Linked DNA regions of Homo sapiens. The protein of the gene in region 4 interacts with the protein of the main gene of each other region in a pairwise test. Each region holds a gene or a part of one and is shown on either strand. Other genes may lie near its edges.

The links.
Region 1: the proteins of VAX1 (region 4) and EAF1 interact in binary tests that used the Homo sapiens proteins (3 or more experiments, as listed by UniProt).
Region 2: the proteins of VAX1 (region 4) and HECW1 interact in binary tests that used the Homo sapiens proteins (3 or more experiments, as listed by UniProt).
Region 3: the proteins of VAX1 (region 4) and RPRD1B interact in binary tests that used the Homo sapiens proteins (3 or more experiments, as listed by UniProt).
Region 5: the proteins of VAX1 (region 4) and POLR3C interact in binary tests that used the Homo sapiens proteins (3 or more experiments, as listed by UniProt).
Region 6: the proteins of VAX1 (region 4) and SPANXN2 interact in binary tests that used the Homo sapiens proteins (3 or more experiments, as listed by UniProt).
Region 7: the proteins of VAX1 (region 4) and ESRRG interact in binary tests that used the Homo sapiens proteins (3 or more experiments, as listed by UniProt).

Annotation. Positions count from the first base shown.
Region 1 is NC_000003.12:15,437,536-15,440,979, forward strand, and holds part of EAF1 (ELL-associated factor 1), read left to right. Parts: intron 1-1,573; coding exon 1,574-1,620; 3' UTR 1,621-3,444. UniProt on the Homo sapiens protein: Acts as a transcriptional transactivator of ELL and ELL2 elongation activities.
Region 2 is NC_000007.14:43,118,855-43,123,040, forward strand, and holds part of HECW1 (E3 ubiquitin-protein ligase HECW1), read left to right. Parts: intron 1-92; exon of another isoform or gene 93-341; intron 342-2,948; exon of another isoform or gene 2,949-3,165; intron 3,166-4,186. UniProt on the Homo sapiens protein: E3 ubiquitin-protein ligase that mediates ubiquitination and subsequent degradation of DVL1. Also targets the mutant SOD1 protein involved in familial amyotrophic lateral sclerosis (FALS).
Region 3 is NC_000020.11:38,036,633-38,040,818, forward strand, and holds part of RPRD1B (regulation of nuclear pre-mRNA domain-containing protein 1B), read left to right. Parts: intron 1-826; exon of another isoform or gene 827-1,475; intron 1,476-3,802; coding exon 3,803-3,932; intron 3,933-4,186. UniProt on the Homo sapiens protein: Interacts with phosphorylated C-terminal heptapeptide repeat domain (CTD) of the largest RNA polymerase II subunit POLR2A, and participates in dephosphorylation of the CTD by RPAP2. Transcriptional regulator which enhances expression of CCND1.
Region 4 is NC_000010.11:117,134,994-117,139,689, reverse strand, and holds the start of VAX1 (ventral anterior homeobox 1), read left to right. Parts: upstream 1-1,419; 5' UTR 1,420-1,633; coding exon 1,634-1,874; intron 1,875-3,030; coding exon 3,031-3,218; intron 3,219-4,696. UniProt on the Homo sapiens protein: Transcription factor that may function in dorsoventral specification of the forebrain. Required for axon guidance and major tract formation in the developing forebrain.
Region 5 is NC_000001.11:145,837,236-145,841,421, forward strand, and holds part of POLR3C (DNA-directed RNA polymerase III subunit RPC3), read left to right. Parts: exon of another isoform or gene 1-256; intron 257-300; coding exon 301-361; intron 362-820; coding exon 821-971; intron 972-2,654; coding exon 2,655-2,756; intron 2,757-2,880; coding exon 2,881-2,930; intron 2,931-3,686; coding exon 3,687-3,836; intron 3,837-4,186. UniProt on the Homo sapiens protein: DNA-dependent RNA polymerase catalyzes the transcription of DNA into RNA using the four ribonucleoside triphosphates as substrates.
Region 6 is NC_000023.11:143,717,781-143,722,574, forward strand, and holds the start of SPANXN2 (sperm protein associated with the nucleus on the X chromosome N2), read right to left. Parts: upstream 2,973-4,794; 5' UTR 2,889-2,972; coding exon 2,811-2,888; intron 1-2,810.
Region 7 is NC_000001.11:216,506,425-216,510,610, reverse strand, and holds part of ESRRG (estrogen-related receptor gamma), read left to right. Parts: intron 1-3,427; coding exon 3,428-3,672; 3' UTR 3,673-4,186. UniProt on the Homo sapiens protein: Orphan receptor that acts as a transcription activator in the absence of bound ligand. Binds specifically to an estrogen response element and activates reporter genes controlled by estrogen response elements.

The DNA.
Region 1 (3,444 bases), on a different chromosome or scaffold from region 4:
CCAACTGCCGAAGTGCTGTGATTAAAAGCATGAACCACCATGCCTGGCCTCGGTGTGTTTTAATGCAGTTGATACTAAAGTAAAACAGGAAAACAAGAACAAAAATTTATTTGTTTTGAAGGTGAACAGAGGGCTAATTTTCTATGCTTTTCTCTTTTTGGAACCCTGATGAATGTTCTCTCTTGGTACACCTTCCTTTAAGGAAGTTGGAAGGTCTAGAGGTAACAGTGGGGAAGTTAACCTAGTTAATCCAACTATTGTGGACCAGGCAGAGATAATCTCAACCTCAGCACTATGGGCAGTTTGGGCAAGATAAGTCTTCTTTGTGGGAGGTTGTCCTGCACATTGTAGGATGTTTAAGAGCATCCCTGACGTCTACCCACTAGATGCCAGTACCAGTCTCTTCCCACCTCCCCAGCCCCATGACAACCAAAAATATCTCAAGACATTGCCATTATATGCCCCATCTTTAACATAGAGACTGAAGTATATGAAGAAAATCTGGCATTCTAGGTAGTTAGAAAAGGGGTGACCTCAGGATCAGACCCCCCTGAAAGGGTTTCATGGAACCCCGAGTCCTCAGAATAGACTTTGAGGAGAACTGGCCTAGAGATTAGCAATTTGGAAATAAAGAAAATCACTTTTGCTACAAGTGGTATCAACTGGGGTTCTGTTATATGTATTCCTATTGTATTAGATTGAAATGTTAAGTAATTATATTCTTCTAAATTCTGCCTAGTAAACAGGAATCTGGGGTTTTGTAAAGCACGTTAGTTCAGATTTGAAATTTAAGATAACGTGACTATCCTGGACAGAGGTGTGCCAGAGCAGATACTGCATTAGCATATTACTGGTGTTAACAGTATTCACCTTTCTTAATGGGAAGCCTACCGGATATTTTCTTAAGTTGCCTTTATAAAGCAACTTAATGTGATCAGTTCTTCCGAATGGTGATCAGTTATTTTAAATATTTTCTTTTTTTTTTTTTTTCTTTTTTCTTTTTTTCCTTGAGACAGTCTCACTCTATCGCCCAGGCTGGAGTGCAGTGGTGCAATCTTGGCTTACTGCAACCTCCACCTCTTGGGTTCAAGCGATTCTCCTGCTTCAGCCTCCCAAGTACCTGGGATTACAAGCATGTCCCACTACACGTGGCTGATTTTTATATTTTTAGTAGAGATGGGGTTTCGCCACGTTGGCCAGGCTGGTCTCCAACTGCTGGCCTCAAATGATCTCCCTGCCTTGGCCTCCCAAAGTGTTGGGATTACAGGCGTGAGCCACTGCGCCCAGACATATTTTAAATATTTTCTTGCTATTTATTAAACCATTTAAAAGTTATCCAGCTTACTTCTCCTTTGCTCTACCCTAATATGCAGTATTGTTGTGCTTTGTAGATAACCAAAAGCACCATTTTGTTTCAGTGAGCCAATTTGATTTTCTTCCCTAAGTTGAATTAACAAGGTTTTACTGTAGTGTGATAGCCAAGGCAATTAACAAAAAATTATGAGGAAGTCATTTTTAAATTCTGTACTTTTGTTTGATTCTATGATTTTACTTTATTTTTTTTTTTAAATAGGAAATGACTTGCAGTTGAGTGAGTCTGGCAGTGACAGTGATGACTAGTGCTGGATCTTTCGAAACCTACTTTTTGGTGCACAAACATGCCGCAAGACTGAGCTACTTTGGCGTGGAGTCCATTGCAAGAGGAAAATGTTATGGATCAGTGACTGTAGTAGGAGTTTGAGGCTCTGGAACTCTCACATATTCAAGTCTTTAACTTAGTGGTGATGGGTGATTTTCTCGTGTCATTTTTGAACAATCTCATCTTTCAAAGTTTAAGTAGACCTGTAGAAGAGCTAACAGAATTATATTTCTATTTAGTTAAAATTGTTAATGAAAAACAGATAAATGTGCCCTGGTCTAAGTTACTCAAAGGCCATATCTTCACCAGGCCAGAGATTCAGTTTTAAACCTCAGCAGCCATCAGTTTGGCCAAGTGGTTGGTACCAGTGGAATGAAGTCTTTGATGGGTAGGAGAGAGAGGGAAAACCTCAAACTACATCATAGAAGTATGTTAAAACCACTTTAAATTGTTGACACAAAGTGGTAAGGAAGTTTTGTCTGACTCAGCCTGACAAGCCTGGATAGAAATGGACCTCAGAATACAGAATGGAGTCCTTGAGTGTCAGTTGGTGAGGACCATGGAGTCCTGCCAGCTCAACCTGTCATTTACAGACTAAGAAAGGGAAGTACACACCTGGCTTGTGGCCAGTCTCCTGCCCCCTCTCTGGGCTTTCCTCACTGTTCTCTCCCTTGAATCTCATTTGTAGGAATCAAGAGATTCCTATACATGGGACTTTTAGATGTACATTGGCACTTGGATTAGATTCCAAAAGACAAAAGTGTTGGGTGCTTCTAGCTTGAATTCAGTCCCTAAATACATGAGGCTGGGTGAGCAGATGAAACCGGTAGCCACTGTGCTGATGCATGTGACTCCATTCAGTTGGGGATTTTGGTTCCATGTGGATCCATACTAAGTATTCTTCAGTCAGTGGATTTTAGCAAGGGGAGGTAGGAGTGGAAGAGAGGTGTGAAGAAACCTCTCCGAACAAATGAACCAGCAGTAAGTTTCTAAAAATCAGAATCTAGATAGAAGTTCTGCAATATGAAATGAGCACATTCTTTGATAAGGCGTATCTATTCATGCTTTTGTACCACTGTTTTGTACCTGACTCCCTGACCGATTTGTATTTTTTATATACAACTAGAAGGAAGTCACAAGATTGCCTTCTACAGTGTGCCATTTCCAAATGGATCTGTTGTTGGAGGAAACTGGTTGCTAGTCAATGTTCTATATTTAATGAATGTGTGATAAATCATCCTGTAATCAGTATGGAGTAACCTGTTTTTGTAGTTTGGATGAATATGTCCTGAGAAATTTCCATCCACTTTGGTTCAGCGGACATCAAGGTAGTAATAATAATTTTTCCTCCACAGGTCCCTCCACTCATATGGCCTCTCCCTCCCCAGCTAGTGGAGGGGAAGCAGTCTGGACTTAGAAAGGAAATAGGTGGTCTGTCATAGGGGCTTTCATTAGAGTTAAACTTCATAGAGTCAACTGTTTCATCATCATAGTGAGCCCAGAGAGCCACTGCCCAGCAGCATGCTCACACCACCTACCCTAGTGTAGGTAATAGGTCTACGCTAGGACCCCGTGCTGGGCTCTCAGCCCATCATGAGATTTTGGTGGATTTAATGGCAGGTAGGAACTTATTTATAGTGGATTGATAATTGCTTTATAATTCCTTGGTAATGACAGCTCAGGGAAGGTTTCACAAGGTCATGATCAGGAGACTTGAATTGTTACTGGATGTAGGAATTGTTTCACTGCTCTTAACTTGCTCAAACTGGGGCAGGTTCCAGGAACTTGAACTAAAAATATCTATT
Region 2 (4,186 bases), on a different chromosome or scaffold from region 4:
TGGCATACAAATGGTACTGTGATGTATGACATTTATAAAACCGCTCCCTGACTCCACATCCCCCATGATGGATTTTCTGTTTCTTTTTAAAGAATATGCTTCAAAAAGGTTGTCCCACTGGCCTTCTTCACTCCCTCCATCTCAGCCTCTAAAGACATATTTTATTGTGACATATTTGATTTTGACAAACAGCACATTGAACATATATGAAATATATGAAGCAAAATATGACACACACCCACCATGCAGCCTGAGACCAGAAGATCACCATCTTATTTGAAGCTACTTTTGTGTTTCTGCCACCTCTCACCTTTTGCCTGTCTTGAGAGCACCTCGATCAGGTATCAGTCACTCGTTCCTGTCACTCCCCTCCCTGTTGTCATTAGGGTCACCAATGATCTCTACCTGGTGAAGTACAAGGGCACAGCTTTGCTGATCTGAGCAGCATTTCCCATGGGGCTGTGGGGGACCACTCTTTTCTTAAGCACCTGGCTTCTTCCAGGACACCAGATTCTCCTGGTGTTCCCGCAGCCTCTCTGGCTCTTCTCTCTCAGGCTCTTTGGATGGCCCCTGAGTTTTTATCCCGATTGATCTCAACTGAATTTTGACCTTTAAATGCGGGTACGGGGATTCCCCAGGCCTTGGCTCTCAGACTTCTTCCCTTCTTACTTAAATTCCTTCTCTCAACACTGTCTTCATGCTCATGATTCCAAGTTTATTTCGTCAGCCCTGACTCATTCCCAGAACTCCAGACTTGAAAATGCAACCGCCCAGCATCTCCCTTTGAATGGCACGTTAGCTTAAAATTAACATGTGCAAAATACAACCCCCGATTTTTGCTCCCTAAACGTGCTTCTCTTCTGGTGTCCTCCATCTCTCTCAGGGACAACTCTGTCCTTTCAGTTGTTCAGGTCAAATACCTGTGAGTCCCTCTGACTTTTTTCTCACCCAGATCCAGCTTTCAATAAATCTCTGTCCCTTCTCTCTCCCTCTCCATCCAGCACAGCCATCCCCGTCTAAGCGCTAGTAAGCTTTCCTAACTGGTTTTCTGTAGTCCTTGCCCATCTGCAGTCTGTTCCCTATACAGCAGCCCAAACGAGCCTTTAAAAGTGGAAGTCTTCTCATTCATTCATTCATTCAACAAATACTGCCTAGACATCTGCTGTGTGCCAGGCATTGGTTTAGGTGCTGGGATGTAGCAGGATCACAGTGCAAAACAGTCACAAGTCCTTGTCCTCCTGGAGTGGACATTGTGTTACTTCTTTGACCATAGCCCTGTTCAGGATGAAACCCAAACTCCTTACTTTGCCTACAGGGCTTGCCTTGCCACTCTCCGAGTCCCCAGTTGTCCTTGCTCTTCCTAGAACGTGCCAGGTACAAATACTGTTCCCTTGACCTGGAGGGACGGTCCCCCAGCCACCTGCATCCTGACCCCCTTTATCAGATATCACACCCTCAGAAAGGCTTATTCTGACCACACACAATGTGCTCTCTTCCATCTGCTTGTTTGCTTGCTTTTTCTTCATACCACTTAGCACCACGCAATTTGTTACATAGTTTCTGCTTATGTGCTATTCTCTGTCTCCCCTTCTAACTTGTAATCTCCATTAGAGCAGGAACCTATTTGTTTACCCAGTGCCTGGAAAAGTGTCTGGAACATATTAGACACCACACTGAATGTTTGCTGACTGACCGAATGATGTAACAGGTGCTTTCCTTAACTGAAATCCAACCTCAGAACTTTCTCTATGTCCACATTATATTGGATAAATCCCCTCTATTTATTTATTTATTTGTTTTATTTTTTGAGACAGGGTTTCACTCTGTAACCGAGGCTTGAGTGCAGTGGCATGATCTTGGCTCACTACAACCTCCGCCTCCCAGGCTCAAGTGATTTTTCTGCCTCAGCCTCCTGAGTAGCTGGGACTACAGGTGCACACCACCACACCCGGCTGATTTTTGTATTTTGTGCAGAGATGGGTTTTCACCATGTTGGCCAGGCTGGTCTGGAACTCCTGGCCTCGAGTGATCTGCAAATCTGAGTGATCTGTAATCCCAAAGTGCTGGGATTACAGGTGTGAGCCACCACGCCTGGGCAGATAAAACCCCCCTAAAAGCTGCTGGATTAGAGTTTAGATGATATTTTCAGGTCTCAGGATCCTCTGAGCATATATCTTCCCTTTTCCATGCACTATTTTTCCCTCCCCTACAAGGAGGTGGCTGGGGTTCTTCCTTCCTGCCTGGACATTTTGTTGGTCCTGAACTTCCGTGTTTTTCTCCTGGCTGGTGTTCTCTAACAGTTAAAGAGAGTGGCTAGCTTGAGCTTGTCTTTGCTTCCTCAGCACCCAGCAAGTAGACCCGGCAACTCAATTATTGTTGAGTTGAATCACTTAGTTGTTGTTATTGTTGCTGCCAGGACTTGATAAAAACTGTTCTTTGCTTCCTCTGGGCCACACTGACTTTGTCATCTTGAATGTGAGCCTGTCAGTCCTGTGTTCAAAGCTCTCAGGAGTGGCCAAAGTACGCACAATTCCCTAGGCTGGCATCGTCGGGCTGTAGGCCTTGGCCAGCTCATATCCCCATGCACTCTTTTGACCCTCTGTGGCAGCCAAGCAAATCATTTTCCCATTTCTCCCAACATGCTCTGTGCTTTTCCGTAGTTGTGTAAACATACAGTGATATGTAAACATATAGTGATATGTAAAATCACTATATTATACATATAGTGATATTTTATATATCACTATATGTATAATAAATGATGCTATTTTCTGCTCTTAGACTCCCCATCCCTCTGTAAATGTAACCATTTTTAAGATCTAACTTAAACCTTACCTCCTAGCAGAGTCCATCACTCAGTTTCCTAATAGGATATGATTTATCTCCCTACAGAATTCTCCTGGAATGAGTATCATTATTTGCTTATTCTTCACTCTCCTGTCTTTCAGCCTCCCTACTAAATGCTGAGCTCCTCTAGGTTAAGGGCTTGTCACACTTCTCTTAGTATTCCTGAAACTACTTGCCTCAGTATCTGCCTCAGCAGGTACTTCTTTCTCCGAATGTGAAATGAGCTCAAGGAACAACCTAAGAGTTGAGAAGGTCTGCATTTCGTTGCTTCTAGAATGCTATACGCCATGTTGTGTCCACAAAATGCGTACCCCAAAGGTAAGTAGAAAGTTAGAAGAGGTGCACTCCACAAGGACAGATTTTTATTTGTTTGTTGATTCTTCAAGGACAAAGAACAGTGCTCTTCACTCAGTAACCATTTGAAGAATGAATGAAGTACATAGCTGGCATCTTAAATTTCTAATACCCTTGTTCTATAAATGAGCAAAGCCGAGGACTGCAGAGCTTTCCCAGGTTCACAAGGTCAGAAGTAGAGCCCAGTTTTCTGCAGCGTGAATCCTGTCTTTCTCCTGATCTCCACCCCTGCCATGAATAGTGTCAGACCGGAGCGAGAATTGTCCCAGTAACTCTTTCCAGGTGATGCTCACTAGTGTTACTTTCTTACCAATATCTGAGGAGCTTCCTTCTTTAGGCAAGGTCTAATTTTTAGGTCATCTGAAAGAAGCAAGAGTAGAAATTGCAGAATTTCAAAGGACTCAGAGACCCAGAAAGGGGGGTTTATTGGCAGTGCTCCTCTCCTGCTTTAGAAACAACTTTTAACAGCAAGTAGCAAACTTTTTGATGAGACCTCTCTCATAAGAACTTTGCAAGCACTATCCATCCTGTTGTCGCAATAAAGTAAAATTTATCTTTCTTAGAAACATACATTCAGATCATGGTGTGACATCCTTGAGAAAAATAGCGGAAATTCACAAATTGTTATTTTCTCCTTTCTCCCAGGAAAGGAAAAAAATATCACTATATGTATAATAAATGTTAAGCTTCGAGATTCTAAAGAGAAATTTGACCAAGGGACTACTAAATCACAAATCTAAAAATAAGTCCTATATATCTATACACAAATATGTATAAAACTACATACACATAACATATATAAACACATGCATATAATTTTTAAAATTCTGGTTATTTTCAAATCATTTTCCGTTGCTTATTTATTCCGAAAACATTTCTTGAGCTATTATGTGAAAAGCATTTCGGTTCTTTTGTGTGTGAGATTTTTCCATCTAGACAAAAATCTGCTTATGGTTAAAGGTGAAAATGTCCAAAGACAAAGCAG
Region 3 (4,186 bases), on a different chromosome or scaffold from region 4:
GTTGAGTAAAGGATCTAAACAGCGCTATCCAATACAACTTTCTATGATAGCAGCATAAAGGATATAAACAGCGCTATCTAATACAATTTTCTGTGATAATAGCAATGTTTTCTATCTGTGCCATCCAACAGGTAGCCGCTTGGTATATGTGGCTATGGAGCACTTAAAATGTGTGACTAAGGAACTAAAGTTTTAAGTAGATAGAATTGAAAATTTAGTTTCCAGTTTTTACCAGCTGCAATTCAGGTGTTCCAATAGCCACACGTGGCTAGTGGCTAACTTACTGGACAGTGCAGAGTTAAAAAAAGATGCTCTTCCAAGCATCAATACCTAGCTTCCGAATATCCAGGCTTATTTCATGAACTGAAAATGCCCCCACACTGAAAGAAAAGGATTCTGTGCCCTAATGTTCAGATTGATTAGCCCTGTAGGTTCTACCTAGGGTGAAGTCATTTTCCGTAGCTGAGATGCTCACAGACTGTCTCTGAGTTGCCTTCAAAATATATGAGATTTATAAAAATTAACTTTTTTTCTTGCTTAAATACTTCTATTCCTGATGTGTTGTCTTTCCATTTTCTAGGAATAATTTTTAATTTATCCCATTTGAGCTCTGTTCTAAGTAGAACGTCTCCCCTTCTTTATGGACTAGTTTTGGTGTAAAGTGCTCCTAAATGAATGTTTTTAATGGTGTTTTGTATCTTGGCCTGAATGTAGGTAATGGGCTTTTATTGCAGAATTACTTTAAGACTTTCTGTAGATGTCAAAACCAGCCAAACAAGTGAAAAGTTTTGATTAACCAGTTGTTTAAATTTTACTCAACAACTAGTTTGACCAGTTTGGAATGGACATGGGTAGTGAGTGAAAGGACCTATTTCTGTCGTATAGGAAGGACATCTGAACAAGTGAGTTGTCCCCCAGGATTGGGATGGAGGGGTGTGCATGTTGTGTGTATTGTGACTGTGTGTGCTCAAGAGCTCTAGGGTTTTGTCATATCACCTTGACACACATGGTGCTTATGTTGACTGTTGAGGATGTTGAATATGGAGGGATACAGTTTATCCTAAATAAATCCCCATTGTTAAGTTCTGGGGTGATGAAAATTAATTGGCATTGTAAACAGTGAAAACCTTGGGTCTCAAGCCCCTTAGATACCTTGTTTGTCTACTGAGAAGTATATATCAGGTCTTGAATGTCCACACTGACATTTTACAATATGGATTCTAGGTTTTTTTTTTTTCAACATAAAGTGTATGGAATTTTAAAGCTTCACTTAATGAAATTTGCTTTGTTGAAGTTCTGTTTTGCTTTCGAATCTGCTAACTTGCATGGGATTATAGGTGTAGTAGTTTCACTTACATCAACTTTGCAGAGCAAGGTTTGCTTTAACAAAAAAGCACGTTTTGCCATAATCATACCTTTGTAGCAACAGTAGATATTGTAACTACTGACACTTTTGTTCTGCTTTTGAATAATAATTAGAAAGTTGAAGAAAGCTCCAGGTTCCTAGTATTCTTATCAGTTGGCCATCTAAACTAGGTTATTACCAGAAGGTTAAGACAATTCAGGGTATCCATATTTAATTTTATGAGCATTTAAGACATCAGTTTCATCAGTTTAAACTGTAATGTGCTATTAAAATCATGTTTTTAACTTGGGTTACTCTCCTGTAGCTACATTTTTTTTTTTTTTTTTGAGACGGAGTCTCTTACTCTGTCACCCAGGTGGGAGTGCAGTTGGCGCGATCTCGGCTCACTGCAACCTCCGCCTCCCAGGTTCAAGTGATTCGCCTGCCTCAGCCTCCCAAGTAGCTGGGTTTACAGGCGCCTGGCACCACGCCCGGCTGATTTTTTTTGTTTTGTTTTTTTTTTTTTTTTTTTTTTTTGAGACAGAGTCTTGCTCTGTCACCCAGACTGGAGTGCAGTGGTGTGATCTCGGCTCACTGCAAGCTCCGCCTCCTGGGCTCACCCCATTGTCCTGCCTCAGCCTCCTGAGTAGCTGGGACTACAGGCGCCCGCCACCACGCCTGGCTAATTTTTTGTATTTTTAGTAGAGACAAGGTTTCACCATGTTAGCCAGGATGGCCTTGATCTCGTGACCTCAGGTGATCCACCTGCCTTGGCCTCCCGGAGTGCTGGGATTACAGGCGTGAGCCACTGTGCCCAGCCTCCTGTAGCTACATTTTAAAATGTCAGATCTTATGCCTGCTATGTCAGACATATCAATGCTTTGTACATTTCAAAAGAAACAACTGGTTTCAGAGAGAAATAGAGTTACTCAGGTGTGTTAAGGTTGATAAAGAGCTTGTGTTTTTCAGGTACTTTAGCATTGGAGAAAACTTTGTGTTTTGAAACATCTAATTATGTTCTTATTTATTTCTTTTAAAAGAAAATTGGAACCAAAAATTGTAGGGATGTAACTTTATAGTTGAGAAATTATGTGCATAGAAGCCAGGGAATTCAGTAATGTTCCCCAAAGCAACTGTAACTCAGACATATTGCACGAGGTTTTTATGGTTTAATATATGATACCATATAGAGTAATAGGGAATAACCACATTTCATATAAATAAGAGAGAATTATGGTTTTTGTGAAAGCCCTAATTTTGCATATCTAGATTTCACACGTGTGTAAATTTTCAATAAGAGTGTAGTGTTAATGTATACTTGTATTTGAGCTAATATCTATTGGTGCACCTAGAGATTCTTCTATATTATTGATTATGGTTATTGGAGTATCAGAGAAATTCTCAGTTTAGGAGCAAAATTACAAGAAACCTTTTTTTTTTTTTTGAGACGGAGTTTTGCTCTTGTTGCCCAGGCTGGAGTGCAACAGCATGATCTAGGCTCACCACAACCTCTACCTCCCGGATTCAAGCGATTCTCCCACCTCAGCCTCCTGAGTAACTGGGATTACAGGCATGTGCCACCACGCCAGGCAAATTTTGTATTTTTAGTAGAGACGGGGTTTCTCCACGTTGGTCAGGCTGGTCTCAAACTCCCGACCTCAGGTGATCCGTCCATCTCGGCCTCCAAAAGTGCTGGGATGACAGGCATGAGCCACCACGCTCGGCGAAACCATTTTAAAATTGAAACCTAACTCAGTCTTTTTTTTTTTTTTTTGAGACAGAGTCTTGCTCTATTGCCCAAGCTGGAGTACAGTAGTGCAATCTCGGCTCACTGCAACCTCCACCTCCTGGGTTCAAGCGATTCTCCTGCCTCAGCCTCCTGAGTAGCTGGGACTACAGGTGCCCACCATCACACCCGGCTAATTTTTGTATCTTTAGTAGAGGTAGGGTTTCACCATGTTGGCCAGGCTGGTCTCAAACTCCTGACCTCAAATGATCCACCCACCTCGTCCTCCCAGAGTGCTGAGATTACAGGCATGAGCCACTGCGTCCGGCCAACTCAGTCTTTCATTCTGAAATATTTGATAATTAAAAGTGAGTTAGAAGTTGCTCATTTTTGCAGTAGAATAAATAAAAGCCCTAGTTTCAACATTAACACTGACTGCTTATCCTTTAGGAATTCTCTTTGGATTATCTTAATTTTTACTATCAATTAATTACCCTGGTTTAAACAACACAGCAATGAAGATGGCCCATTCTTTTTCTTTTTCTTTTTTTTTTTTCCGAAATGGTATTCCCAAACCTATTCCTTAGGTGGTCTTTTTAAACATATCTACTTGACCCCCCAGGTAGATAATACTTGTCTTAATGTTTTTTTAGGAGCAGCCCAGGGCAAAAGAATTGTGAATTGAGAATTTCTTTGGTGTAAGTTAAATTCTTTTCTTTTCTTTTTTTCAGCCAAATCAAATAGAAAGCTTACTTTTCTGTATTTAGCGAATGATGTCATCCAAAACAGTAAAAGGAAAGGACCTGAATTCACTAGAGAATTTGAATCTGTCCTTGTGGATGCTTTTTCTCATGTTGCCAGGTATGTTGTCTGTTTTTTGGATTTGTTTTTAAATTCATTGCCTTTCCCACCTTTTTGTTCTTTCCTTTTCTGTGATAGCCTTTGTAAATTGACAACTTCCTACTTTACAGAGAGTTGTGGAGGCCGAATTGTGGTTTTATGTTTTGTTGAGCCCTCAAGAACTATCGAGACATGTAAACATTCTGATACATTTGAGAGATTCAGCCTAGCATTATCTTTCTTCTAGATATATTCATTTTCATTTTTTGAATTTA
Region 4 (4,696 bases):
CTCCCCAACCCCCTCCCCTCCCCCCGCCTCCGCCCCATTCTTGGAATTGTGTGGAAAAATTCTCAGCCAAACCTCCCACCTCTCCTCTCCCCCCACCCACCCCCTTTAAAAAACCCCTTTCCTCCCCGGCCCCTGCACTCTTTGTGAATGAGGGCAGGGAACACGGCCCTTCCCCCGCCCAGGAGCCACGCCAGACCGCCGCACTCAGAGGACTGTTTGTTAATAGTCCAATTAGATAATTGCCATCTTTCACTCCTTTTGCTCCGCATTTCCCATAAAGGAATGAATGGGGAGAGCGGCGTGGAGAGGGCTTCTGCCCCGGCAAGGTGACGAGAAGGGCTGGAGCATGCTCCTTGCACAAGGCCATGCGCTTGAATTGAATCATTGTAGCCTAATCAATGCTCTTATTGGATTACTGGCTGTTGCTTTTCTCAAAGATATTGTAGCAGAGACAATGAAATAGCTAGGGGAAAACTTTTTTTTTTTTTTTTTGAAGCAGATCTCACAGTTGAGATTTCTCGGCCGTCTCTCCCTCTCCCCCTCTCTCTCCTGCTGGACTCTGAGTACAAAGCTGCCCTTTGAATGGGCTGCCTCAGGGCTGCTGGAGGTGCAGGCATGAAAAAATCCAACTGGAACTAAATGAAGAGAGGTGGCAGTTTAAGATGGCTGTCTGCGTCGAGGTGTGTTAAGAAGGAGTTGTTTAGGGGAAAATCTTGGCTTTTTTAGAGTGCAAGGGAGATACTTTTTGGGAAAACTTTCTCCCCCCGCTCTGTCCCCCATCCCCCACTCCCAGACAACTGCTTTCTTCTGCCGCAGGGTGCGCAGGGTTTTTTTTTTCTCCCCCCACACCCCCCCGCCGCCCAACCCTCATTCAGCTCTATCTGGCGAGTGTGGAGAAAACCCCTCTAGCCAGTATGTGAGCAGGAGGGTCAAAGGCAAAAGGAAAGTTAATAATGCCTGCTAATGGTACTAACAATTCAGGATGAATCTTGTCAAAAGTTTTTCTGGAAGTGTGGGTCTTTGATTGTGTGTTTCCTGAAAGCAAGACCAATCATTTCCGTTTATTCACTGGCTAAACCCCTACTTGATTGGGGACAAGGACAGAAACCATCCATTACGATCTGATATATTATCCAAACAATTTAGTGTATTCATGAGGTAACCGAAACGTGGGGGCTGCGAAATTACCCGTAATCAATTGCAACAGCGAGTGTGCGTCCCCCCGGGTGTCGGACAACTACAACTCGCCGTCTCAGAAACAGGCGGGAGCCGCAGCATTTCGGAGTTGCGCTGTTCGCTACCTGATCGCCAGGCTGGGGACACTGGACGTGCTCAGAGGACGCGGGTGCTGACGAGGCGGCCTCGCCGCAGCTCCACCAGGATCCTGGACCAGACTGGCCGCCTCTCGGCGAGCGCGCCACTCTCCCGTCGCCGCTGACCCGCGCGCGGCCGCCGAAGCCTCCCCGCGGGGACATTCATTCTTGCCCCTTGCCTGTCGCCGGGCCGGGCGTACGGGCCGCGTTGTCGGGGGTTTTGTCCCCTTTTTCCTCTTTTTTTTTTCCTTCTCCGCCCCCCCCCCTTTTTTTTTTTTTTGCTTTTTTTTTCCTTTCTGTTTTTGTTGTTGTTCTTGCCTATGTTCGGGAAACCAGACAAAATGGACGTTCGATGCCACTCGGACGCCGAGGCTGCCCGGGTCTCGAAGAACGCGCACAAGGAGAGTCGGGAGAGCAAGGGCGCGGAGGGGAACCTCCCAGCCGCCTTCCTCAAGGAGCCGCAGGGCGCCTTCTCAGCGTCGGGCGCTGCTGAGGATTGTAACAAAAGTAAATCCAATTCCGCAGCGGACCCGGATTACTGCCGCCGGATCCTGGTCCGAGGTAGGGATGGGCAGGGCTGCCAGGCGCGTTCTTTGGGGTCGACTCCGGGGCCGGAGCTGCGCGCTGCCGCCGACACAGGCCGGTGGGAAGGAGTGCCGGCTGGGACTTGGGAGAAAGTTGTTGGCCCTCCCCGCCCCGAGTCCGGCTGGGGACAAGCGCCTGGGACTCTCCGGTGCGCTCTCCAGGGGCCTCGGCCCTCCACGCCCGGAGGGGCCCCGCTGACCGGGCTGCGGGGGGAGATGAGGGGCTGCGCGGGTGCGGCCGGGCATCGGGCTGCGGCCTCCGACCCGGGAAAGGAGCAGAAAACTCCGGGAGGAGGTGTGCGCGCTCCAAGGGCCGGACGACCTGCCGGGAGCCGGCCAGGGGACTCCCGCGCTCTGGAGGGCTGAGCGCACCCAAGGGGGAACGCGAGCCCCGGAGAACAGCTGCCGATCGCGGGCTACGGCCCTGCCAGTTAGTGCACTGGGCCGAGGACCCCACGGCCGCGATCGGTGCCCGACCGCTGCCGCCGGGAGAGGCAGCTGGGCTTGGTTACGGAGCCGCGGTTGCCGCTTTGGTGCTCTGCTCTGCCGCTCTCGGATGGCGCGGCGTGCACTTAGCCCCGGCGGCGGAGGCTGCGAGGCCGGGCCCCGGCCCGGCGCCGCCCCAGCCAGCAGCAGATCTCCGGGCCCGGCCGGCCCCGACTCAGTCCCTCCTCCTTCCGCCGCGCGGACTCCGGAGGGAAGGAGACTCGAGGGTGGGGGTGGGGACGTCTGGATCACGGTCTGGTCGGCAAGCCCAGAGCTGGGGCCCGCAGGACCCGGGCGGGGCGACAAGGGTACCCTCAGGCTACAGGGGACCCGGAAGGCTCAGCCGAGGCCCCCCCAGGCCGGAAGAAACGTCCGCCTATGTGGAATTGATTGGATTTTTTTCTCTCCCCTGTCTGGAGGACTCTACAAAAAGACAAAGTGTGGTCCCTCCTTCGGTCAGCGGTATGGAGTTAGGCCCCTTGCCCTCCACACAGTGTCTTTGCTACCTGGTTGTGGTCGCGCTCCGCACCCCGCCCCCCATCCCCAAAACTGCACGCTTCTGGGGACTGTGTCCCCAAATCCAGCTCGGGCCAAGGAGGTGGAGGGGGACGGGAGGGTTCTGGCGGCTGACATCTCCCCTTCCCCAGATGCCAAGGGGTCCATCCGAGAGATCATCCTGCCCAAGGGCCTGGACTTGGACCGGCCTAAGAGGACGCGCACGTCCTTCACCGCGGAGCAGCTCTATCGGCTGGAGATGGAGTTCCAGCGCTGCCAGTACGTGGTGGGCCGCGAGAGGACCGAGCTCGCCCGGCAGCTTAACCTCTCCGAGACCCAGGTACCCGGCGACCAGGCCGCACACAGTTCTGCACCAGCCTTCCTCCCCACCACCCCTACCTAGCCTGCTCTTCACCTCCTAACCTGCTCTGGACAGAACTACCCTTGGGAGGTGGAGGAGATGGGAAGGATGGGTAAGACAGGCCTAAGGATTCCTTCCCCTAGATAATACATCCTTTCCCCCCACCATTCCTGCCATCCCCAAATCCTCCAGGGCCCATGTTTTATCCACCTTGGCCTAGGCCCAGAAGGCCCCAAATCCTGTCCTTTTGGAATTTTTATTGTCCCCCGGTTTTGAGCATTTCCTTCGAGCTTCTGCTCTACAAAGAACTGACTTTTGCCCTTGTTTGGGGTACCCCATTTTGGCTAGATTTCTAGGCCCCACCCCTTGTGGGCCCACCCAGCTGTACTCAGCGTCCAGGCCCATTCTACAGGAGTGAGGCTAGATCTAACACCCCCTGCCCCAGCACCATGGGTGATTCCCAGGAATTAGGTGTACGCCCTCCTGGAGATCTGCCTGTGCAGATCAGGCTGCCCTGACCCTTAAAGGAAGGCTTTCCCCATTCTGAGCTGGCCCCAGCCCTGAGCACCTAGGAGACCCTGTCTTCTGGGCCAGTGATGTGTGAGGTGTGTGATGGGAAGGAGATCTAGGACCCAGAAGCCAGTACTGCTGATTGTGCTTTAGATCTTTCCCTTTACATTAAATCCATATGATGCCCCTTGGAGCTGGCCATGTGGGCTCTGGGCCCAGGAGAGGACCCAAGAACTTGCCAAGTGGCATGTCACCAGCTTGGCCTAGCTACGGCAGCCTTCTTTCTGAAGACTGATCCTTTTCCCCATGCCCAACCCTGAAGCAGGTGGAGAGCATTTTAGGTCCGGGATCTGGGCTGAAAGCTGAGGACTGACAGAACAGATAGGGGTGTTCTTTTTGAGTTTGAGTTGGTATGGTAGCTTTTTCTATTCTCTCTGCTACTACTCCTCTTAGTTTATAAAATCTAGATAGGATAGTCTTTGCCTATTGCTGCAAAACTCTTCTGGGCCACTGCTAGGCCTGCAGAGGGGCAGAAGAATGAGAGGGGAGGTTAGTGGGGAATATTCAATCCACCTCAGCCTCCTGACTTTCTCCCATGATTCCAAGTTCATGACTCAGACCAGTGGAGAGATAAACTAAGAGTATCACCAGACCCTTCAATGCAGCTATCTGGTGAGAAGAGGTGCAGAAATCTCGGTCTACATAAAGTCTCCCGCACATATTATTCTCCTGCAGCCACTTTCCCTGCTTGCTGCTAGCTAATGGTCACGTCTTAAGCAGGAAATGGTCCTTTGTAGCCTTCACCAGGAGTAGTGCTTCTAGGACTAAATCCGAGCGCATTGGGCCAGGGGCCTGGGTCCAGAAAGGCTGGGCAATACTCCCTCCCCGCCTCTCTTCCCACTTCCCTCTTCCTTCTTCCCTCTTCCTTCACCGCACCCGCACCCTAG
Region 5 (4,186 bases), on a different chromosome or scaffold from region 4:
GACAGACGTTGCAGTAAGCTGAGATCATGCCACTGTACTCCAACCTGGGTGACCCTGTCTCAAAAAAGAAAAGGAAAAAGGACTTTTAATCAACCAAATTTTAGTTAAGCAAAACCCTTACTTAAACACTTGTATTAAAGTTTTGGAATATTTATGTACCATGACTGAAACCATAAATTATAACATGAAAAACAAAATAGCATTTAAAATTTAATTATAAATTAGAAACTTAGGAATAAAACTCAGATCACAATAACTAGGCCAAAACATTACTGAGTGACCTTAATTCTCTACATAAAGACCTCCATAAGGCATTAGCATCCCTAGCCACAGCCACTCTGGAGTCCGTCGTACAGGAGAGGTAAGGGGGACACTGGTTGGGTTTGGGATCACATACTTCCTATCCCCAGTGAAGTAATTTGATCATTATGTAAGCCACCAATATAACCACACCTTGGCATACTTTTCCCCATTTTTTCACTGGACTCCTATGGATCTCATGTAATACTGCTCTTTACCTTAAAATAACCTACTGTTTAATTCCTACCGATGCAAATTAACCAGCCTCCCTAAAGCCTTTGCTTACAAATGTAGGAACTGTGGCACTCAAATGAGTCAGCAGTTGGTGACTGCCTTATGATTAACAGCAGTTGGTGATGCCTTACCATCACCAACCTATGGAGCTGTAGAATAATTTTCTGATCACTGTTCCTGTCTGGTACTGGCTTCACACATGGAATAGAACAACCACCCCATCTATGACTGGGAACTAAAGCTGATCTATGTTAGCATGCCATTTGCTTTCTTCATTCCTTTCCAGATTTGGGTCTCGCTGTGCTAGAATATTCCGTCTAGTTTTGCAGAAGAAACACATAGAGCAGAAGCAAGTGGAAGACTTTGCAATGATTCCTGCAAAGGAGGCAAAGGATATGCTATATAAGATGCTCTCAGAAAATTTCATGTCACTCCAGGTAACCAACCAAGGGCGTAATAATTGCCAACCAGCAAAGCTGGCCTAGGGTGAGAGAAGCTTCTTAGGCAAACATACTGAACCCCCAAGCAAACTCTATATCCAGCTCTGAGACAGAAAAACATGATTCACAGAGACATAGCGAGCACTTGGAGGATAATTTGGGGCCTTAACTGCCCTAGTGAGAAAGAGGTGGCCGGGCACGGTGGTTCGCGCCTGTAGTCCCAGCACTTTGGGAGGCCAAGGTGGGCAAATCACTTGAGGTCAGGAGTTCGAGACCAGCCTGGCCAACATGGTGAAACTCCGTCTCTAATAAAATACAAAACAATTAGCTGGGCCTGGTGGCACACGCCTATAGTCCCAGCTGCTCGGGAGGCTGAGGCAGGAAGGAGACTCTCTTGAACCCAGGAGGGGGAGGTTGCAGTGAGCCGAGATCAAGCCACTGCACTCTAGCCTGAGCAACAGAGTGAGACTCTGTCTCAAAAAACAAAAAAAACAAAAAACAAAAAAGAGGCAGAGCCAGGACATCACCCCAAACCCACCCTGCCTTTTTTTCTCTTCTCATTTCTGTCCTTCCTTAAGCCTTAATTCTGTTATAGTTTAAATTTATCAACACATCTAACTGAGTCTTTGCAGGGCTATTTAGTAGAGCATATGAGTAAATAGATAGAATGGATTTTTGGAGTCAGATTACAGCTCTGCCTTACCCAGTTACATTAAGCAAGTTACCACGTTTCCCATCTATAAAACAGTGATGGATGGTGATAATAAAAATAATATGGTTGCCAGGTGCGGTGGCTCATGCCTGTAATCCCAGCACTTTGGGAGGCCTAGGCGGACGGATCACTTGAGGTCAGGAATTCGAGAATAGCCTGGCCAACCTGGTGAAACCCTGTCTCTACTAAAAATACAAAAATTAGCTGGGCGTGGTGCCGTGTGTCTGTAATCCCAGCTACTCAGGAGGCTGAGGAAGGAGAATTGCTTGAACCTGGGAGGCAGAGGTTGCAGTGAGCCAACATTGTGCCACTGCACTCCAGCCTGGGCAACAGAGCAAGACTCTGTCTCAAAAATAATAATAATACGACTTTTTGTAAAGATCAAATAGAATTTACCTGGCACATAGAGTTGTTCAGTAAATGTTAGTTGCCCTCCCTTTCTTCCCCAGCTCAGGATGCTGACAGTCAAATGGAAAAAACAGGGAAGCCCAGCTCTCCATTTGACTGATTATGACATAAACCACAAAGACTGGGCCGGGCACACCTGTATTCTCAGCACTTTGGGAAACCAAGGCGGGATGATCACTTGAGCCCAGGAATTCAAGACCAGCCTGGAAAATATAGTGAGACCATGTCTCCACCACCCCCAAAAGATTAAAAAATTAGCGGAGCATGGTGGTGCATGCCTGTAGTTCCGGCTACTTGGGGGACTGAGGTGGGAGGATTGCTTGAGCCGGAGGTGGAAGTTGCAGTGAGCTGATATCATGCCACCGCACTCCATCCTAGGTAACAGAGCAAGACCCAGTCTCAAAATAAATAAATAAAATAAACACAGGTACTGAATGACTAGGAAACAGGAAAGTGTAAGTAAAAAGGAGGGCTAAGTAACTCCAGGTAGAATGAGTGTGTGCTTTGCCAGTTCTAAAACAGTATAATTTCTGCTATTTTTCTTTCTATTGGACAAATAGGAAATTCCCAAAACACCAGACCATGCCCCATCCAGGACCTTCTATTTATATACTGTGAACATCCTGTCAGCTGCCCGAATGTTGTTGCACAGGTGCTACAAGGTAACTCAATCTGGACCTTCTCCCCATTTCCTCCATACGGTCAAGTACCCCTCATGTGCCCACTTCGCCCTGAGCTGCTGAAATAGAACTATGTGCATTCCTTGTCTGTCTTCTCTTTCCTCAGAGCATAGCCAACTTGATAGAAAGGAGGCAATTTGAAACCAAAGAGAATAAGTAAGTAACATTTTCAGTTGAGTTATTTACATCTTTCAAGATCAAGGGCCTCAGGGGAAATTTCCTCTAGAAATAGGAATCAATAGACGCTGGGCCTGGCAGGGTGGCTCATGCCTGTAATCCCAGCACTTCGGGAGGCTGAGGCAGGTGGATCACTTGAGGTCAGGAGTTTGAGACCAACCTGGCCAACATGGTGAAACCCTGTCTTCACTAAAAATACAAAAATTAGCTGGGCATGGTGGCGGGCACCTATAGTCCCAGCTACTCGGGAGGCTAAGGCAGGAGAATCACTTAAACCCAGTGAGTGGAGGTTGCAGTGAACCAAGATCACGCCACTGCACTCCAGCCTGGGCGACAAAGTGAGACTCCATCTCAAAAAAAAAAATTTTTTTTTTGAGAAGTAGGAACCAGTAGAGATAGCAACCAGTCTACTTGCATTGAATCATTGGCTTAGATTAGTGTAAATCATGCATTAGTCTACACTTTTCTAACATGCTCCCAGTGAAATAATTTTTCAGATTAAATTTGTGAGAAACGTACAAAAGCACCAAACTTTTAAGTGCAAATGAGAGGCAATAAGAATTTCAGGAGTGAAGTTATATTTCCAAATAAGTTTGTAGAAAATGTCCTTAGAAGGTGACATTATCTACTTTGATCAGGAAAATGGTAAAGGGTGGTGGGTAGTGCCTCAGACACACGTGGTAAGAGAATCTCCCAGGTTAGGGAAGATGTCTCAGAGTTGTGTTTGTTTGACAGGCGTCTACTAGAAAAATCTCAGAGGGTAGAAGCCATCATTGCATCTATGCAGGCTACTGGTGCAGAGGAAGCACAGTTACAAGAAATAGAGGAGATGATCACAGCTCCTGAACGTCAGCAGCTAGAGACCCTGAAACGTAATGTCAACAAGTAAGCATCATAAACTTCAGACCTGCATTTCAGAATACCATCCAGAAAATCCATTTTGACCTCCTGTAACCCTCCAGCTTAGCATGAGCAAACCTAAACTCACTGTCTCCTCCAGCTCACTTAACAGAATTTAATCCACCTATTTTTGTAAACTAGCAATTCTGAAGATGTTCTGAGCTTCTTCTCCATCACCATATACACTCTCTTGTTCATCAAGTACTGATAAATTTTTTTTAAGAGACGGGGTTTTGGCTGTGTTGCCCAGACTGGCCTTGAACTCGTAGGTTCAAACAGTCTTCCTGCCTCAGCCTCCCAAGTAGCTGGGACTACAGGCAAGTGCCACTGCGCTG
Region 6 (4,794 bases), on a different chromosome or scaffold from region 4:
ACACACCAGACCTGAGGACACTTACTAGGGCAGGACTAGCAAATCAACATCACTCACATGCTCCCCAGAAAGTGATTCCTATACATTCTAACAATAGTAGATACATTCTCTGGATGAATAAAAGCTTTTCCTACCACCACCAAAAAGGCACACACCATCGCTTCTATTCTCTCCACCCATATTATCCACCGGTTTAAACTCCCCTCTTGCATCCAGTCAGACAATGGGCCAATTTGTTTCAGTTTAACCAACAGCTGGTAAAGGCTCTAAACATTAAATGGGCTTTCCATATTCCTTACCACTCCGAATCTTCAGGAAAAATTTTATAAAAAACAACAACTAACCAAACTCTCCTTAAAGGTTAAAATGGCCTGGACTTCACTTCTCCCATTGTTCCTCATGCGATTATGAGTCATTTCCTAAAAGCGCTCAGCCTAAGCCCATTTAAATTCATGTACAAATGCTCCATTTATCCTCCAGAATCTCCCTGTATTTTCCCCCCATTCTATATGGAATACTTGGCCGGCGTTACACCTCACCCAACATCTAATAAGACAGTACGCAAATGCTTACTTGACCCAGCCTAAAAGTCCATCCTCAAAACACTCCTCCCTGTCCCTACAACCAGCGGGCTGGGTCTGAATCACAGACTCCTCCTCCCCCGCTCTCCAACCTAAGTGGAGGAATTCTCACCAGGTGATGCTAACTACTCCCACAGCGCCAAAGCTAACATCCTTTGCACACTGAATGCACATTTCAAACTAAAAAGAGCACCAGATCCACATCTAGAAATTTGTTCACCCCCAAATTATTCTCCTTCCCTGACAAGACCAACCTCACTGTACTTAACAAGAATTCCAGAAGTTGCCAATCCAGAACACCTTAGTCCATAACACTCTCTGTCTCCAGTTTCCAATCTTTTGTCTCCTACTTTATTTCAGATCTTTCCTGGTTTCCCTTCCCCATGACCCTGAATAGTCCAGGCCAATTTGTCACACTAATCAAGGAGATATGACTTCAGGGCACCTTCCAAAATTTCACTCCTACTCAAATCTCCTCTTTCTCCTTTTGTCCTCTCTATCTGTGGGATATTCTAAGTCCCCACCCCGAACGTCTAACAGATGAGCCCCCTTCATCAGCCTCACTGCCTCTTAAATCAGTCACACTCCCCTCTTCCTTCCAACTGTTAAATTTGTTTGTCCACACAAATCCAGTAGTTCACAGCCCTTCCTGTTAACCTGGCCACATGAACCCTGTCCAAAATAAACCTGCATTTCACCTAATTGACCAATTCATTCGCAAAACCTGCTTATAATCTTGCTCGGCTAATCACCTTTCCCCCCCCACCAATCCATCAAATCCACCCACACCGTCACACACAGGGCTGTCACCCTCCTTCACCTCATAGCCTCTTAACTAAACATGTTACCAGTCGGATTCCAGAAAATACCTCTTATCAACCCCTCCCCTTTCTGCCGGAGCCGCTCTCCATGTATCCAAGTCAAGGGCGCTCCCTGGAAAATATCCACAAACAATTCCCTCAACTGCAACCTGTATCCTTCTGCGCTGTCAGGACCGCAATGGCTATTAGTTACAAAAACCCATTTCCTGCTCTCTCTCCAAAACCAAACAGCCTTCACCTCCTCCACTACCAACATTTCCTATCAGGCCTTCAGAGGGGCTACCCTTGCTGGCAGGTATTCAACTTGGAAAAACATAAAAGTTAAAACAAAGGGTTTGTGCAGAATTCAACCCCCACCTTCTCATGACTTGCCACCATAACCTACAACTTTTGTCTGTCCACCCCTAGTGTCTTCTTCCTTTGCGGCACAAACTCTTATCTCTGCCTACTGGCCAATTGGTCAGGAACATGCACCCTTGTGTTTCAATCTAAACATTAACACTTTGCCTAACAAGCAGACCATCCAGGTTCCTTTAGTAGCTTCTGTCTCATCTTCCTCCACACACACTAAGCAGGCTGTACATCTCATTCTAGTGTTAGCAGAACTAAACATCTCTGATGCACTCAGCACTGGGATAGCAGGTGGTCCCTTTCTTAGGGCCGTTAATCTTCCTCCTCCTGATAGTACATTTGGCCGATGTATACTCACCTTCATATCCTGCTTTATCTCCCGAAGGCTAAACTCCCCTCTCCAGGCAGCCACCCAGCAACACATTGATACCATCCTTCTCCTCTGCCAAGTCCGGTACCAGTGCCTCCAGGAAAACAACTCTGAAGTCCGTCACCCCCTGCTTCAAAACCCAAACCCTGATTACAGCTCCCCTATTCGGCAGCAAGCAGCCAGATAATCAACAATGCCCCTCTTCCTTTTATACTAAAGTAGAAGGCAAGAATGTGAGTCCAAACCACCATTTAGTAAGCACCCTGCTATTTTGCAGACCTTGATCAAAGTGAAACATTCCACGGGGGTTCGGGCCATGAGAAAAATCTTGCCTAATCGTCGTAACACAAGGCGGACACAGGTCCAACTAAAGAAACTTTCCTATGGTATCTTGCTGGGCAAAGTTCCAAGAAACACCACAATGACATCCCACTGGAAAAAGGACCAAACAGCCTGATCATAAAAACATCTTATCAATATCCTGCCGGGCAGCAAGCCATACTGCCCCGGCCCCTCCCACCCATACCTATAAGCACCCCAGCCTGTAAGCGGCGGTGGGTTCTGGCATTAAGCGGGTCCCCCACTTCCACAGGTGTCTGCAGTATTCCTGTGTTGCTGTTTGAGCCGTCCCTTCTCTGTGTGTCTTTCTTTCACCCTCACCTTCCCTTCAAAACCTAACAATCTTACCTCATCATTTTTTTTGTTATTGGATTCACAGGGGCTCTTCCTCTTCTCCCCATTGGTGCTTGAAGTCGGCTGTTCCATGATTCTGCTTGGTTGTAGAATGTCTATAGTAGGCTCTTGTAGACTGCAGACTTCCACAGCTATATTGAAGCTTGCCAGGAGGATGTCCCAGAGCTCTGGCCCTCCCTATGTATACCTTCCTGGTGGCAAGGCAAAGCCACACTCTTGAGCTTTGTTTGATCATACAGGCAGTGTCCCAGCCAATGGCAGTCCTAGGGTGGCTTAGACATCACAAAGCACCACTGCTGACCACTCCCTGGGCTTGTGGGGGACGGATGACAGGGGTGTAGAGGAAACCAAATGCTGTTGTTGTTTCAGCATCCCCTGAAGATGCATCCCAAACTAATCTGCTGCTGCTCATTTCTCCATGTTTAATGTTCATGGTTCACATGGAAGTGAGAGGATGATTCCTTCAAGCCCTTCCCCACAGTCATTCCTATGAAGTCATTCATTCTTTTGTCTTCCAGCCCTCACCATGACTTAGTATTTTAGATGTCTCACCTCAAATCCCTCCAAGCTAGTGTGGCTACATTTAATTATTGGTGGAGATGTGAATTATCCCATTTCCCTCCTACAGTTCCTTCACATGCACCTTGAAGACCATTTACTTTTAGGCTACTGCCAGGCAAATTTCAACCCATGTTCTTTTACCCAATGTCCATGTAGTTCTTTTAAGTTTCCTATCTCCAATCTGAAATAATGGCCTTCAGTCTGTCAAAACTTTGGTGAATAAACTTTCTTTACCATGTATCCTAGTCTTGTTTCAAATCAGGGGTCTATGTTCATAGTAAATGTAGTATCCCAACATGAATTCTGCCAGTATGTGGGTGGGGGAAGGAGTGGATATTCAAGTGCTGGAAGTTGTTCTGAGTATTTACCTGCAGGATGCTACAATCTAAGACCCACATGTGCACCAGTATGGGCACAGTTATACTTTGTACTGGAGATTGTGTCCAGTGTAAAAGAAAAAAAAATGCATTCAGATTGGAAAGGGAGAAGTAAAAGTATCTTTTGTCAAAGACTACCTGAGAGTATATGTAGAAAAGTCAATCTAAAAAAATGGTTCTACATTAATTGAGGTTAGCAAAATTGCAAAGTAAGAGATCAACACACAAATCAATTGTATGTTTATATATTAGCAGTTACATATGAGAAGTTTCTATATTAGAAGAGACAATGTTTTAGCCAATGGTAGTCCTAGGGTGGACTGGAAGTTAATTTCAACAACTGAAAGTTGAAACTAAGAACAGTGCAATTTAAAATATCACTAAAAATATTAAAGGCTTAGGGATAAATCTGACCAAAGATGTAAATGACTTGTACACTTAAAACTACAAAAATTTACAATGATAAATTAATGACATAAGAAAAAAATTGAGATCTATACTTTGATTTTCGGTTGGAAGATTCAATATTGTAAAATGGCAGTTATTTCCAATTTCATCTGTGGATTCAACTAAATTCTAATCAAAATTCTAAAAAGCCTTTTTAATAGAAATTGACAAGATAATTATAATATTCCTATGGAAATATAAAGTGCCTAGAATAGTCAAAAGAAAAGTGTTGAATCTTAAAAAGCTCTGGATTGCATCACTGTCAATGTTCTAGTTTTGATAGTGTAATGTGGTAGTGTATTGAAGATTTTACTATTGGGAGAGACTGGTTGAAGGGTACAAAAGGCCTCCATGTACGTATCTTTGAAACTTCTTGTGAATTTATAATTGTTTCAAAATAAAAATCTAAAAATATTTTAAAAGACAGTAAGAAAGAGGACTGAAAATAGAGAAGGCATGGCCCAGGATTTCTCCCACAGGTTGACTGACACTTGTCTCATTCTCTATAAGAAGTCACAAAACCTGATAATGAAAAAAAAAATCTAAAAATAAGACAAACGAGAAGTAGACCCTGGAATTTTGTTCCAGTGTTC
Region 7 (4,186 bases), on a different chromosome or scaffold from region 4:
CCTGGCCCACAATGATTAATATTTTCTAACATAGAGAAGGGCAGTATTTTATTCAAGGGAAGATATAAAAATAAAATCTTCTTTTTCAGTGGCTCTGTCTTATTCAATTTGCAGCTGCAAGGATGATGATATTTAGCTATCTTCCCAAAGTAAATGATCTGAACTAGACACATTTTTTTAGGATCTCTTTCACAGAGTAAAATATTGGAAGTTTTGATAAAGTTCTATTTTATTATTAGGTGTTAGACTTAATATGTGGGCAATAATATGTGTTTCATATACACTCTGGTTATCTTTTGAAATATTTATTCTTTTAGAATAGTATTTGCTTGTCTTATTGTCTAATTCAGTAGTAGTTCTTAATCCTGGCTTGGCAGTAGAACTACCTAGATTTTCAGCAATGCTGATGTCCTAGTTCTGGTCTCTTACTTCATAGATCTAGACTTGGGCCCAGTATCCAAGATTTTTAAGAGCTCGCCCATTGTTTTTAATATGTAGCCTAGTCCTGTCTAGTTAGTTCATAAACTTATGATATCCATTAAGTTTAGCTGGTTCCTATTAGCACAAATACTAGGAATATTTCCTTTAAAGCATAGTTAAAAAGAAACCAGCATGAACAATGAAAACAAAATAAATTACATACATTAATGCCAGTTCTATTGAGCCTGGTGTCAACGTGTAAATTTAACCAAAAGAACAAAACAGAGATTAAAACCACAGATCCAGAACTTGAACTAGGATCCCTAATGGAGATTAATATTTTCTTCAGCAGTCTGCCAGCTGAATCATTGTCTAATTAAATAGTTCAAATTTAGTGAGTTTGCATTTAAAGTATTAGCAGATCCGAGAATGGGTAAAGCTAAAATGAGTTAGAATCTTTTCTATAAATGGGAAGTTAAATTATCATAGTAATTTGATTAAATCATTTTTAAATCTCTCATGCTAAATCACAGCCTTGAAAGAATAGTTTGAAATCTTAATTGCTGTTTGTGAGCATATCTCTCTGCTATTTGTTCTTGTCTCATTTCCCATGACATCCTATAATATATCTCCTGCTGGGCAAGAGTAGTGGGAAAGGCAAGACTATGGGTAGGGCCGAGGTAACTGTGCAGCTGACTTCAAGCACTTAAAGATATGCCATGTAGAAAAAGGAAATTTATCCTGTATTGTTCTAGTAATTAGAAACAGGACCAAATGATAGAATTTGGAGACAGATTTAGGAAAATTTAAAGAGGAAATTCATAATAATTAGTTTTGCCTCTTATCAAGGAGAATACTCTACATACTTTTCATACAACTGGCAATGTCTTCATTAAGAATGTTGTAAAGAAGACAGCTGATGAAGATAGGAGTTTGAATAGGATGTGTTTAGAGGACAATTCATCCCAATTTTTAAGGGAATGCAAATTTAGTGTTCTACATTCTAGCAGCATTATTGATTTGAAGAATCCTGAATTTAAACCTGTGTCTGACACATATTACCAGTGCCACGTGTCTTCTAGGGCTTGGGGAGGTAAAATGAGGCCATGTTCACCTGAAATAGGTGCTTAATAAATGGTAAATGTATTATTTTTATTCTGGTGTGTTTTTGGTCTAGTTGGAAAATAGTTATTTCGTTTGTTTTGTCACTGCAGAGTGTAATTCCCATTTTCTCCTTCCATCTATTACTCTGTTTTCATGTAGAGAGCTAATTATTAGACCCAGGATAAGTTGGGAAAATCCAACTCATCTCTGTTCCCTTATGCACAAGGTCCATATTGCAGTCTTTTGTGTATCTAGAGACTCACCATAGTGTTTCCCCATACCTCCCATTTTTCCTTCAGGTAGCATTTAAGTGCAAAAATAGAGAGAAAGAATATCAGATCATGTTGCCATCATCTCTATGAATGTTTTTCTGTCCCTAAGATTACCAACCCCTAGACAACTTTAGAAATTATGTGTGTTTGTTTCTAAGAGACAGCACCATAGGAGGTGGATGAGATTGCCATGCTGAGAGGAACCAGACTGGAGAGAAGCTGGGTAGAAACAATCCACAGGGAAAGGCCAGGCGTATGTTGGGGAGTGACTTGAGTCCCGCTCCAGGGAACCACTATCAATGCTATTTCCCACTTGGAAAAATTCCTTCTTTTTGCTCTGCCAGGCAGAAATTGAGTCTTGAGCAGTAAATACTTATAAGCAACTTTATTCCAGATTATTCAAAAATTTTTTAAAGAGGTGTCATTAAACTACCTAATGTAAATAGTGGTCAGTTCACCAGTGATATGGTGGAATGATTCAAAATGACAATGTAAGTGAAAAAAACACTAAACAAAATACAAATAAATTTTTAAGACATGCTACTGGTTATCTTTTAATTAGTTTGCCATATTTCATTTTTATTATATATTTAGCCACTTGATTTTAAATTACATTCCCTCTCTTTTTGTTCATGTGATCTATGTTTGAATTGTATGAAAGATTAGGCTAACTACATATATCTTAGAGCTCAGCATTCTCAGAGAACTAGAATTATTAAACATGAAGAATCCCCCAAAGACTCCATTATGTGTAATTAACAGATAAACTGTCATCAGAATCAATAAAACGTGCTAAATGATTCAAACTTGTATATAATTAAGTGTCTGCTTTAGAGCTGGAGCTGTAACTTTTATTTTTTCCCCACATCTCACATTTCTCACAAGAATAATTTGGCAACCTTGTTAACCCTTTCTTTGCTTGATTGAATTAGATTTTCAAATTATTCATTTAAGGGCAAAGTTCACCTTTACAAATGCGAAAAATATTTCAGAACTCAGTGATCTGAAGACACCATTTGTTTTTCATCAGGGAAGTAGACTCTGTAAGGATGCTTTAATCAACTGATACTAGAACATTAAACATCCTGAAAGGATAAATAATTTATTGTGATTTCTGTATAGTGCTAGATTCAATGTAGTCACATGGAGTTCTTAGAATCTTAGTCAACAATTTTTTCCCCTGTTTGGGAAATATTGGCTTTTCCAGGCAAGATCAGAATTTTAAACAACCTTCCCCCACACAGCACTAAGATAATACTTTCAATAGATGGCCTTCCGTGGTTGTTTATTGAGTGAATGAATATATACCTGGATGAGACAATGAATAAAATAGTCAAGACTGTAATCTGTTAAAAGAAAGCCTTCTCTTGCTCAGCCTGAGAAAGAAAAATACACATTTTAAATCATAGATCTTTTCTAATAATTCCCATTTTCTAAGCTAGTATTAGAAATTATGTAGGGAAATTTGGAAAGAAATAGAGATTGTAGAAATGCAAGACTCTGAACAAATCATAGGTTCAAGCTCAGAGAAGTTCAAAAATAATTAAATTAATAACTAATTTTATAACTCTAGTCTACATAGGTTTGCTATTATTATTATAATTACTCATATCTTTTGCTTCATTGCACAGACTCCATGCACATAGAAGATGTTGAAGCCGTTCAGAAGCTTCAGGATGTCTTACATGAAGCGCTGCAGGATTATGAAGCTGGCCAGCACATGGAAGACCCTCGTCGAGCTGGCAAGATGCTGATGACACTGCCACTCCTGAGGCAGACCTCTACCAAGGCCGTGCAGCATTTCTACAACATCAAACTAGAAGGCAAAGTCCCAATGCACAAACTTTTTTTGGAAATGTTGGAGGCCAAGGTCTGACTAAAAGCTCCCTGGGCCTTCCCATCCTTCATGTTGAAAAAGGGAAAATAAACCCAAGAGTGATGTCGAAGAAACTTAGAGTTTAGTTAACAACATCAAAAATCAACAGACTGCACTGATAATTTAGCAGCAAGACTATGAAGCAGCTTTCAGATTCCTCCATAGGTTCCTGATGAGTTTCTTTCTACTTTCTCCATCATCTTCTTTCCTCTTTCTTCCCACATTTCTCTTTCTCTTTATTTTTTCTCCTTTTCTTCTTTCACCTCCCTTATTTCTTTGCTTCTTTCATTCCTAGTTCCCATTCTCCTTTATTTTCTTCCCGTCTGCCTGCCTTCTTTCTTTTCTTTACCTACTCTCATTCCTCTCTTTTCTCATCCTTCCCCTTTTTTCTAAATTTGAAATAGCTTTAGTTTAAAAAAAAATCCTCCCTTCCCCCTTTCCTTTCCCTTTCTTTCCTTTTTCCCTTTCCTTTTCCCTTTCCTTTCCTTTCCTCTTGACCTTCTTTCCATCTTTC